Linked DNA regions of Homo sapiens: region 2 is linked to region 1. Evidence: fine-mapped expression QTL. A gene starts in region 1. The other region holds a variant in brackets. All regions are shown on one strand. Distances are between the middles of the regions.

Region 1 (5,374 bases):
GCTCCTCAGGACTGCAAAAGAGCAGGGCCCAAGCCACAAGCACAATGATATGCTCCCTCCATGACATGCAGACAGTGCCTCAATGGCAGAGGGTCCATGGAATTAGAAGGGGAAGAGGGAGCCTCTTCCCAAAAGAAAAACAAAGTTGCATGCAAACTGTACCTAAGCACTGTAAGACGATCTTAAAACTTTCACTTCTCCCAGGGGCCCTCCCAGAATAAGAAATTACTCTTATCCCCTTCCTTGAGATTATTATCCCTTCAGCAATGTTATTGGTTGATTTCTGTTCATATCATATAATAGCCTACACTTTACAGTTTTTCTCATCCTTTCCTATATACCTTCTCCACCTGCACAGTGTATACTATAGTTCGTCAATTAATAAAACACACAATCAAGTGTTTATTAAGTACTTATTTTGCTAAATGCCATGGAGAACCAAAGAAAAGGCTGTGCGCAGCAGAAAAAGTCTTGCATCAGAGAAAGCGGGCCTTGGTTCTTTTTAGTACTCCTTCTATCCGACATTTGGCCAAGTTACTTATCCTCTCTAGGCCTCAGTTTCCTTATGTGTAAATCGAGGGTAATAATAGTGTCTATGTCCTAGGGTTGCTGAAAGGATTAAATGCAACATTTATCCTTCTTGTACCTCAATTTAGTCATCACAACATTGTGATTAGGATTAAATGGGAAAATATTAATATAGGATATCTAAAAGCATGTAGCATGTAAGTGAGCTTTATTGTATTGTCCTTAAGAAGCTTGCAATCTAGTTAGGGAAACAAGAATCATATAGGTAGAAAGATTAGAAAATAAGAGGTTGGTGATAACCAAGATCATTTAAAAAAGTAAATGAGTGCCCATTATGTGTCAAGTCCTTTATAAGTGATCTCATCTAATAAGGAGAGGAGTCCTATGAGAAGATCATTCATGATCTCATCTACTCCAGTCTAGACCATTAGTATGTGGCAGAGTCAAGGCTGTAATAACTAAGAGGCAGGATTCAGACTCTTGTCTTACCTCTATATTTCCAAAGCTGAAGCATCATAAATACCAACTGCTGACTAAGCCAAGAGGATTGTCCCTGTGCAGTAGGAAAAGCTGGGCCACCAGGTTTAATGACCACCACCACTTGTTCTGGGCAGACGGTGTATCAGACACTGCACAGATTATTTAACCAACTTGTCTTTTCAACAGCTCTATCAGTTCTCGATAATCTTTGTTTTTTTGAGACGGAGTCTCACTTTGTTGCCCAGGCTGGAGTGCAGCGGCGCGAACTCTGCTCACTGCAACCTCCGCCTCCCAGGTTCAAGTGATTCTCCTGCTTCAGCCTCCCAAGTCGCTGGGATTAAAGGCGCCCGCCACCACGCCCGGCTAATTTTTGTATTTTTAGTAGAGATGCGGTTTCACCATGTTGGCCACGCTGGTCTTGAACTTCTGACCTCAGGTGATCCGCCCGCCTCGGCCTCCCAAAGTGCTAGGATTACAGGCGTGAGCCACCGTGGCCAGCCTCAATAATCTAATTTTTATTTAAAGAATAGGAAACACGACTTAAAGAGACTATTCATATTAACAGCTACTATTTATTGAAAGCTACAGCCTATCTAAGGTGGATGCTTTTGAATCTGAATCCATGTATATCCAAAACAGTTATTTATCACTAAGTAAAACAAACAAGATCCAGGGCTCCCCCGTTCACAGAATGGCCAAGCAAAGAGAAGTTGAGAGTGCAAGATTGCCTGTGGGGGCTAAGCTGGAGTTAAATTACGATCAAGTTTTTCTTTATTCAGAACTAGGTGTCAGGCACGGTACTAAAACGTATTCACACCCTCTGTGAAACCTGCTAATTACTCCATTTACACAGAAGGAAACTGAGGCTCAGAGAGGTGAGGGAACTCACCCAAGGTCACACAGCGAGCGAACAGTATTCGAACTCCAGTTTAGGTGAGTCCTGGGGCCCAGAGTCTTTCCTCGGCATCAACAACCACAGGAACAAATCACCCAGCATTAGTCCGTTTATAAAGGCCTACCGTCCCCAAAGTGAAAAGAGGTGGAAAGGGCCGCGGAAAGAGCCCCTGGAGCACACACGCCAGATCCCAGCACTTGTTCCTCCGACCTGGCCAGGCAGGGACTGTGCCCTAGAGCCAACTCCCTCAAAGTCCCCAGCCCCACCACTCGGAGGACTGACGACCCAGTTCTCCCGCAGGCCGGACCGCAGGCCCTACCGGCCTACCCGCAGGCCGACCTTTATTCGCCGGAGGTCCCCGCACTTGGGGTCGGGGCCGCAGCTGCCACTGTCTCAGCCCAAAACACCCGAGTTCTGCCAGACCCGGGGCAGCAGCCGACGCACTACCGCCATCTTGCCCCGCGGTGTTCGCTTTCAGAACCCCGCCAGGAAGCAAGCATCCAGTTCCGGAAAATGACAGTTCCGCAGAGCTTCTTCGCCCGGGAAGGAAAACTTCCCCACACCTTGCCTCCCCTCTGGCAGCTGAAATAGCGGAGGTGGGATAAATGCCCTCCCCAGCCGAGAAAAGCTGGAACCCACTCCGGCCGGGGAGGCTGGAAAGAAAACTGGCCCCTAGGCGCACAACGGACGGCTTAAGACGTTGCCCTCTGCGGGGCGGAAGTGGGGTGCGGACAGCGGAAGTTATCGCTCCGGCCCCGCCTCCGCCCCCGGCTGGCGTGAGCTGGGTGTTTCCTGCCTCTCTCAGTCCGGGTTTGGAGACTCCTGCGTCCTCCGACTTTTCATGGTAGGGAGGGCGGTGCCCATGGACTAGGGGTTGAGGGCGGCCGAGGGAGCTGGGCAGCAGCAGAGTATAAGAAGGGACCGAGAGGAGGGGGTGTGATGAGGGGCAGTCACGATAGTGGAGAGGCATTTGGGGGATTGGTTAGGGGAAAGGCCCGGGGTGGGGGAAGGGCTTTGGGTGGAGAATTAGGGGCGGGGGTGGTGGTAGGGAGGCTCCCTGGCGGTTAGGAATCCGGGAAGCACATTTGGGCTTGCGGAGTAGATACGTGTGTGCGTGAGGAAGGGGTGTCTCCAAGTGAGTCCTGAGTGCTGGTTGGAGATGGGAGTTGGTGATTGCGAGGAGAACAAAGAGATATCAATTGAAAACGGACATTTGGGGGTGGAAAATGAGGATTTGGAGGATTATGAAGGAGAATGAATGGGCAGGTTATGAGAAGGTGAGGTAGGATTCCTTGGGGCGGAGCGTTTGGCGTTTTGGAGGTTGTGGCTGGAGTCGCTGAGTTTCCAGGAAGTGGGGAAGGGGCTCCCAGGTGCGTCTGAACACACGGCCCAGTGAGGGAAAGAAATCGAGAGAGCCCAGCAGGCTGATGTGCGTTCAGTGCTTGGAATCCTGGGGAGAGATGCCAGGGGCCTGAGGTTAGGATACCTGCGCCACGGAGTTCAGTGCCTCAGCTGGCGCCTGGGTACCTATCTGTAACTTCCATTGAGGCCAGAGGTGACCACGCCTAAGGAGCGGAGGATGTTTCAAGATCTGTCTCTCAGCTGTGGGGTTTGTCTGCTTGGGATCCTCAAGGGTCTGTTCCCTGAGTAGCTCATTGTCCCTGGGTAGAGATGACCAAAGATTGGCCCAGATCTTCTTTCTACTTGCTTGCTTGTTTGTCACGTCCCTGGAAAGTGCAGTCTTAAGGGAAAATCAGTCCCAGTGACGCTGCTGAAGAAAAGTCAGTTATCCTGTAGCTGACGTTGACTAGTCCGCTCCATTTTGTGCAAAATAAGGACCAGCGGATGGGAAGAAGGCAGCATAAACCAGTGGTTCTCAAACTCTGGTCCCACCAGCAGCAACACCTGGTAACTTATTCAAAATGGCTGAAATTTCAAGCCCTGTCAGAGACTACTGAATCAGACATTCTTGGGGTGGAGCCCATCTATCGGTTTTAACAAGCCCTGCAAGGGATTAGACTAATGATTTCTTGATTTGGACTGTGTAATGAAAGGGGCAAAGGAGTTGGGAGTCAGAGGGCTCTTATAGGTGTGATTCCTAGTTTTCTCCCCAAAAAAGTGGGGTTGATGATAAACATCTTTCTCACTAGAACATTGAGAGAAATAGACCAAGAGTTTGTGTATTAAACACAGGGAGAGAATGTCATTTGATGGAAGTTGCAATTGGCGGTAGCTGTCTTATAAGCAAATTTTGGATGTAAAATGCTGCAATTATGTGACTTAGTTTAGTTGAAATGTAACAGCAGACTTTTCTGAGTTGTAGAAATGCCCTCAGTTTGGGAAGGTTTTATACAAGCCTCAATACAGTGTTTCTTAAACTTCTTTGCTGTAGGAATCCCCTGAGGTGATGCTTTGCCTCACATCCCTGGCAACTCTTAGATAAAGCTGGTTAAATACCTTAGCTAGGTGGCAGTAAGCCCTGGTCCCACATCCGAATCCCCCAAAGAGCTTTTTAAACACTAGTGACTGATCAGCCACCCCTCCGCATCTCTGAGATACTGATTAATTGATCTGGGGTGTAGCCCAGGCAAGCACAGGTGTGTGTGAGTTTGTTTTTGTTTTTTGGAGACAGGGTCTTGCTCTGTCGCCCAGGCTGGAGAGTGCACTGGTATTATCTTGGCTCACTAAAGCCTCACCTTCCCTGCCTCAAGCAGTCCTCCCACCGCAGTCTCCCGAGTAGCTGGGACTACAGGTGTGTGCCACCATGACCGGTTAATTTTTTTTTTTAATTTTTTTGTGGAGATTAGGTCTTATGTTGCTCAGGCTGGTCTCGAATTCCTGGGCTCAAGCAATCCTCCCGCCTCAGCCTCCCAAAGTGCTGGGATAATGGGTGTGAGCCACTGTGCCTGGCCTGGCATCATGTTTTTTAAGCACACGCAGGTGATTCTAGTAGCCAGGGTTGGGAACCACTGATCCCAATGTTTGAGACGCCCAAAGGAAACTACACAAAGGACTAGGTGCCAAATGCTTTAACATTCATTCTCTGAGGGTTTTGAAGATTATGGCTTTAACACTCCATTTTACAAGTTAGAAAACTGAGACTTGGGTTAAATTGCTTGAATTTCACGAAGGAAATGGTGGAACTGGATTGCAATCCAGGTTTGCCGAGACTATCCCGTTTTCCTTAACACACACACAGGCACACAAGACTTCTACAGAGAAGCATATAGAAAACGTGGGGTCAGGGATTTGGTGCGTTTTTTCCTACTGTACTTGCCTGAGCCTCCTTTTCAGTCGATGATTTTCCCCCTTCAGCTGATTTTTGTATTTTCATGCATGCATACAGTTGCTTCCTCCCTGTGGCTCTGAAGCTGTGAAGTGGGGGCTGGCTTTGGTTTATGGTGTTTTGGTTTGTTTTTAATGTGTCAGGTCAGGAATTCACTGGGCCAAGACCGTGGAGTTAATGGTAGC
Region 2 (5,374 bases), 28 kb after region 1:
GAAGGGCAATGAGCAAACACAATGATTTGCCAAACAGCAGAAGGGCTCATGCCCATTTCGTGGGAGTCCCCAGCTGGACCCTGTACAAAAAACTGCTTTAGAGACTGCTTTAAGGTGTGGAAGGACTTCTGTGCAAGGTTGCAGCTCTGTTAGGAGAAGCATATTAGCACTGACCTAAATGGCCATCCAAGTATGGTTAATTGCATTGTCGTATTTATAATTCCTTGATACAGAATGATCTCTAGGTTAAGTTAGGCACAAGAGGAAGACATGTACAACTCTGTGTGGTGGGCCACCTTGTGTGTTTTTTGAAGTGTGTGAATAAATATGTGTATTACACATATTTACATGCACAGAATCTTTGAGAGGGTAAAATGATGAGAAACTGTACCTTTAAGAAGGGAAACTAGGGGCAGGGAGACCTGTTTCTCTGCATCCCCTTGATTTTCTGTGCATTTAGCACCACATGTAAGTGTTGCCATTGAAAATATCAGTTTATTTAAAAATAATACTGGTGGCCTTCAGCAGAATCCCAGGGGCCTGATTTAGCCTGGCGGCCCTGCTTAAAGTCCAGGTGTTGGCAGAGGGGGTGGGCCATAACTTACCTGCCCTGTATACTGTGGGAACACAGGTGGAGTTTCCCGAAGCCCGGATTTATGAGGAGACCCTGAACATTTTGCTGTATGAGGCCCAGGATGGCCGGGGACCTGACAATGCGCTCCTGGAGGCCACAGGCGGGGCGGCGGGGCGCTCCCACCACCTGGACGAGGACGAGGAGCGGGAGCGGATCGAGCGCGTGCGGAGGATCCACATCAAGCGCCCTGATGACCGGGCCCACCTCCACCAGTGAGCAGGCAAGAGACCGAGCCGCCCTCCTCTCACCGCCCCCACTCCCTGCCGTGCTACACCCAGATCCTGTGCAGGCTGCCGGGCCCCTTCTGCTTCCCTTGGAGCCTGGAGATACTTTTGTAACAAGCCAGATGATTATTTTGGTATTGCTTGACAAGGCAAATTGATTGTCTTGACCCAGGCGTATGACCCCTGTCGTTGAACAAGCTGTGTCTAAGATCTCTACTTTTCATGAGAATCTGAGACTCTTTGGAGCCAGGCTTTCTCGGTTCTCAGAGGAAAAGTATGAATGAGTGTGAAGTGTATGTGAGAACTTTTGTTTGCAATATTTATTTTTGTGGGTGTCGACTTCCTATGTGGGCTTTTTGGGTGACACTCCCTTAAGGGTTCAGTTTGACAATTCTGAGAGTTGTCCTGCAGTTGGAGGCCACCAGAGGTATCTGAGCTCCCTGCTTCCTATTTCATAATCCTCCAGCCCCAGCAGGTCCACTCCTGGTTCCTGTGTGTTTGGCCCGGGCACAATCCCCACTGCTTTGCTAGACGTGCTTTCTGCCATGTGGCTTTGGGCCTAGAGCTTGTTGATAATTGCAGCTTGTGGCAGTGGAAATATGGCTGAATGAGCGTCTAAATCGTTGAGACCAGTGCAACTTTGGGTGCAAGGCTTTGTTTAGGGATCAAGCCTTTTGCCACCTTGGGCTGGTCTTTGGCCTGGTGCTCACTGGGACCCCATATGTCTGCGTAGGAGCAGAACTTTCCATGGCAGTAAGTGTCCAGCTCTGTTTCTGGTTCTTTCCCCAACTCCAGCCCCGTCCAGTTGTTCTCCTGATTGACCCGACTCCACTCCAGGAAGGCCATCTGACCCTGTGACAGGCATAGCTCATAAACTACCCCTCCCTGGGATCCCGCTCCTCTTCAGCCTCCTTCCCCATGAAGCTGGGCTAACTTTCTAAGTCATTTTGCTTAGAAATTCAGTGTGGCCCATACCCTTTGTCCTCCCAGCCTGGCATCCAGGCAGGGACACCCTCACACCACCAGCCCCAGGGAGCTTCCCTGCTATAAACACAGACCCCCTTGTCTTTGCCTCTGATTTTTACACAGTGTAGAGTGGCCAGCAGTGAACAGGTTGAGGATGTGCGGGTAGATAGATAACTTTGGGTCTGGTTTGTGTCTGTGTTCATGTTTGTTTAAGGGATATGTGTGACTGTGGGTGGGGACGTGTGCTTGTGGGGCACAGGTGGCGGCCCCTGCTGGAGCCCGGCTGGGCGCAGCGCCTATGTAGGACGGGTGTTCTCAGTGACCTACCTCCCAGGCTCCTCTGCACCTGCAAAGGAACAGGAGTGAGTCGTGACTGACAGGGGTGGTTGAGACTAGACTAGGTAGAGTAGTTACCAGGAGATGTGAATGTGCGTCAGGTGATGGATGGGTTTGTCAAGGGAATCGTTACCGTTTTATACCAAAGGTATTAACATGGGCAGCCTTTGACACATGTATTCCAAAAACGAGTTTATATTTTCAAACGGTTTTTACAGCTTAGACTTTGTACTTACTGCCCTGCCTGTGACAGTTGTATGCCTTCATTTTGTATCCAACAGCAAAGTCTACAATAAAACTTTAAAACAATCATGACTGAATGTCAAAATCGTGTATTGGGCAGATGCTTTTTAAACTGTCGTGTGAGAAACTTTTATATTAGGCCATTTGGATTTTATTAAGTGCTAAGGAAAGAGGGCTTACAAAATGTTTCGTAAATATTTTATACTGTTTAAGTGTTAAACACCAACCCTGTCTTTCTTTTGGGTTGAGCTTTTTTAGAAAGTCGAAGTGAATGTTGGCCAGGAAAATGGAAAAGCCATTGTATAAATTTTTTTTTGAGGC[G/A]GAGTCTTGCTCTATTGGCCAGGCTGGAGTGTAGTGGCACCATCTCCACTTACCACAACTTGTGCCTCCTGGGTTCAAGCGATTCTGCTGCCTCAGCCTCCCGAGTAGCTGGGATTGCAGGTACCCATCAGCCCATGCCCAGCTAATTTTGTATTTTTAGTAGAGATGGGGTTTCACCATGTTGGCCAGGCTGGTCTTGAACTCCTGACCCTGTGATCCGACCACCTTGGCCTCCCAAAGTGCTGGGATTACAGGTGTGAGTCACCACACCTGGCTGCATAGTGTTTTAAATGTTTGTGTGAAGAATGAGTTTGTGGAACAATTTGATTTGCTGTGGCCTCTATGCCTAATGAGCTAGTGTTTCTGGCAGCTCTCTCTACCCAACTTTGCACTTGTAGTTTTGAGTCTTTGTCTCTCTGGAATATGAACAGGTTTATAAAACATTCCATGGTGAACAATTCTGTCGGCTGCATTATAGCCATGAGTGAATAGACAGCATTGGCTGGTCCAAGCTCTGTTATTGAGTATACAAGGAACTGATTTTTCTTATGTTAGCACTAAGGGCAAAAACCAATATTTATAATGTAAGCACTATCCAGGTAAAACACTGGCCCAAGATTTGGTAAAGAGATTTCATTGCAATGTAATAACTACAGTTTTTTACAAATTGGAACAGCTTTGGTGTGTCGTAATCAAGGGTTTTTTTTGTTTGTTTGTTTCAAATAAGCCATCTGATTGTGGTGACTGGGGCCCATGTCCAAGACAATTCCTGGCATATTCTGTCACCCTCCCGTGGGGCGATCACTGTGTGGGGACCCCATTCCCCAGTTAAAGTGTGTCTCTGTACCTTACAACAGCGATTCAGGACCCAAGTGTGAACAACACTCAGCCCGCCCTCTGGAGCGTGTGCTGTCTTTAGGGCCCTACCCAAAGTCACTGTAACAGTTAAGTGTGTCATTAACCTTTCTGTCTCTTTGCGCCATAAAAAAATGCTCAAAGTTTTAGATGTAGCCACTGTATGTTGTACAAACGTTGGCGACATGTAAAATAAAAGTCATAAAATGCTTCTGTTTTCTGGCTCTTTTCAGGCATGCCCGGCATAACCAGGCCCCTAAAATCGGTTTACAACAAAGGCAGGGCCCCCACGTTCTGCCTCAGCCCCTTAAAGTCGCTCCAGGTGGAAGGGAAAAGACAGTCATGTTTCTGTAGTGTTTGTTTGAATTCAAACACCAAAAGGAAGTCTTGGGGTCAAAGGCTGCCTGGCTCATGAAAAAGTGAATCAGCTGGTGTTACCACTGATTTGCTATTATGGGGCAGAGGGCTTCAGTTCACCAAACCCAATCCCTTGACACATGTGAGTTCCATTTATTTAAAGCAAAATTCAAATTTCACAGCTTTAGGAAATTTCCTTTACTTAGTCTCAGACCATGCACAGTAAGTCATCGATAGGTTCTTGGAAGCTGAGACTTGAAGCAAAACCATGAGGCTAATGGATGTAAACAAGAGTTAAATTCCTACAGCATGTTGCTGGGCACAAAAACATCACCCAATTTCTAAATAAAGACCAAAGCACTTCTCATATTAAACTGTGAAATACATGAGCTACACGTATATTTAATTAAATCAAAAATAAGACCATATTACCTAAGTTTTGGTGAATCGGTAAGTGATGGTGGTCACAGTGGTGGCCGCATACATCAGTAAATAAACGCTTGCAAAGGTGAGATTATACGGAGCCCCTCCCCAGTCACAAGCGTGGCAGGCTCGCTACACGCTTTTGCGCTGTGGCATTTATTGTCCATTTGTGTGCTCATATGCTTTATATACATTTTTATTTTACAATAAAATTTGTATTCATTCGTTCTCCAACCTGCACGTTCAGGGTTGCAGATGGCCAGAGCCCAATCCCAGCAGCTCAGGGCAGAAGGCGGGACCCACCCTGGACAGGATGTCCTCCTCTCACGGGGCTCACGCACCCACACTCACTCAGACTGGGACCGCATAGACACGCCAGTGCACCTGACACACACACCTTGGGGACGTGGGAGGAAACCAGAGCACCCAGAAGAAACCCAGAGACATGGGGAGAACATACAGACTCCACCCAGACAGTGGCCCTGCCCAGGAATCAGATGTCTTATCAACATATAACGAAATGTTATTTGAGAACTTGCTGTACACAGTATTTCATCATGTCTCAGGGCAGCTTGACAGAGGTAGAGAATCTTGCCCACCCTCTAATGACACGTTGGACTGCGCACTGAACATAGATCCTGTCGAGGGTGTTTAGAATTGCGCCTTCGGGTGACCTGGGGTCTGCTTCCAGAAGGTGACATTTTAAATAAGGTGCCATGGGGCAGCTGAGGAGCTGGGATTAGGCTTTGGCCTAACGCCCCTCAGTTTCTTCAGATGTGATCTGTTAGTGCTGCGGGCCTGGTACCTTGAAGAGGTAGCTAACTGGATCCAATCCCCACTTCCCCTGTAGTTTCCTCAGTTGGAGCAAAAATGGCGATGGTAGAGGTCAGACGTCATCCTCTATCAGGACTTCCTCCGGACTGACACCTGGGAGAGAGTCACACTTCGGTTTACAGCCCTTCCCCGCTCCCTTTGCGCAAAAGGAAACAGTTATCACCTCAACTGTCACCATTAG

What was found. PIP is the estimated chance that this variant, and not a neighbour inherited with it, causes the effect.
Region 2: its variant is fine-mapped to the expression of KCTD10 in whole blood (TOPMed, PIP above 0.99).

The regions. Positions count from the first base shown.
Region 1 is chr12:109,474,633-109,480,006 of GRCh38, reverse strand. It overlaps KCTD10 (potassium channel tetramerization domain containing 10), which reads left to right and starts at 2,707. Exons shown (of 7, transcript NM_031954.5): 1 at 2,707-2,747. The coding sequence starts at 2,745. It overlaps UBE3B (ubiquitin protein ligase E3B), which reads right to left and starts at 2,373. Exons shown (of 28, transcript NM_130466.4): 1 at 1,898-2,373. RefSeq lists enhancers at 2,461-2,550, 3,059-3,794.
Region 2 is chr12:109,447,071-109,452,444 of GRCh38, reverse strand. MYO1H (myosin IH) reads right to left here. Exons shown (of 32, transcript NM_001101421.4): 32 at 4,066-5,286. The coding sequence ends at 5,263. It overlaps KCTD10 (potassium channel tetramerization domain containing 10), which reads left to right. Exons shown (of 7, transcript NM_031954.5): 7 at 632-3,790. The coding sequence ends at 850. Among named protein-coding and RNA genes, the nearest start is that of KCTD10, 28 kb to the left of the region's middle. The variant G/A (reference allele first, on the strand shown) is at 2,725.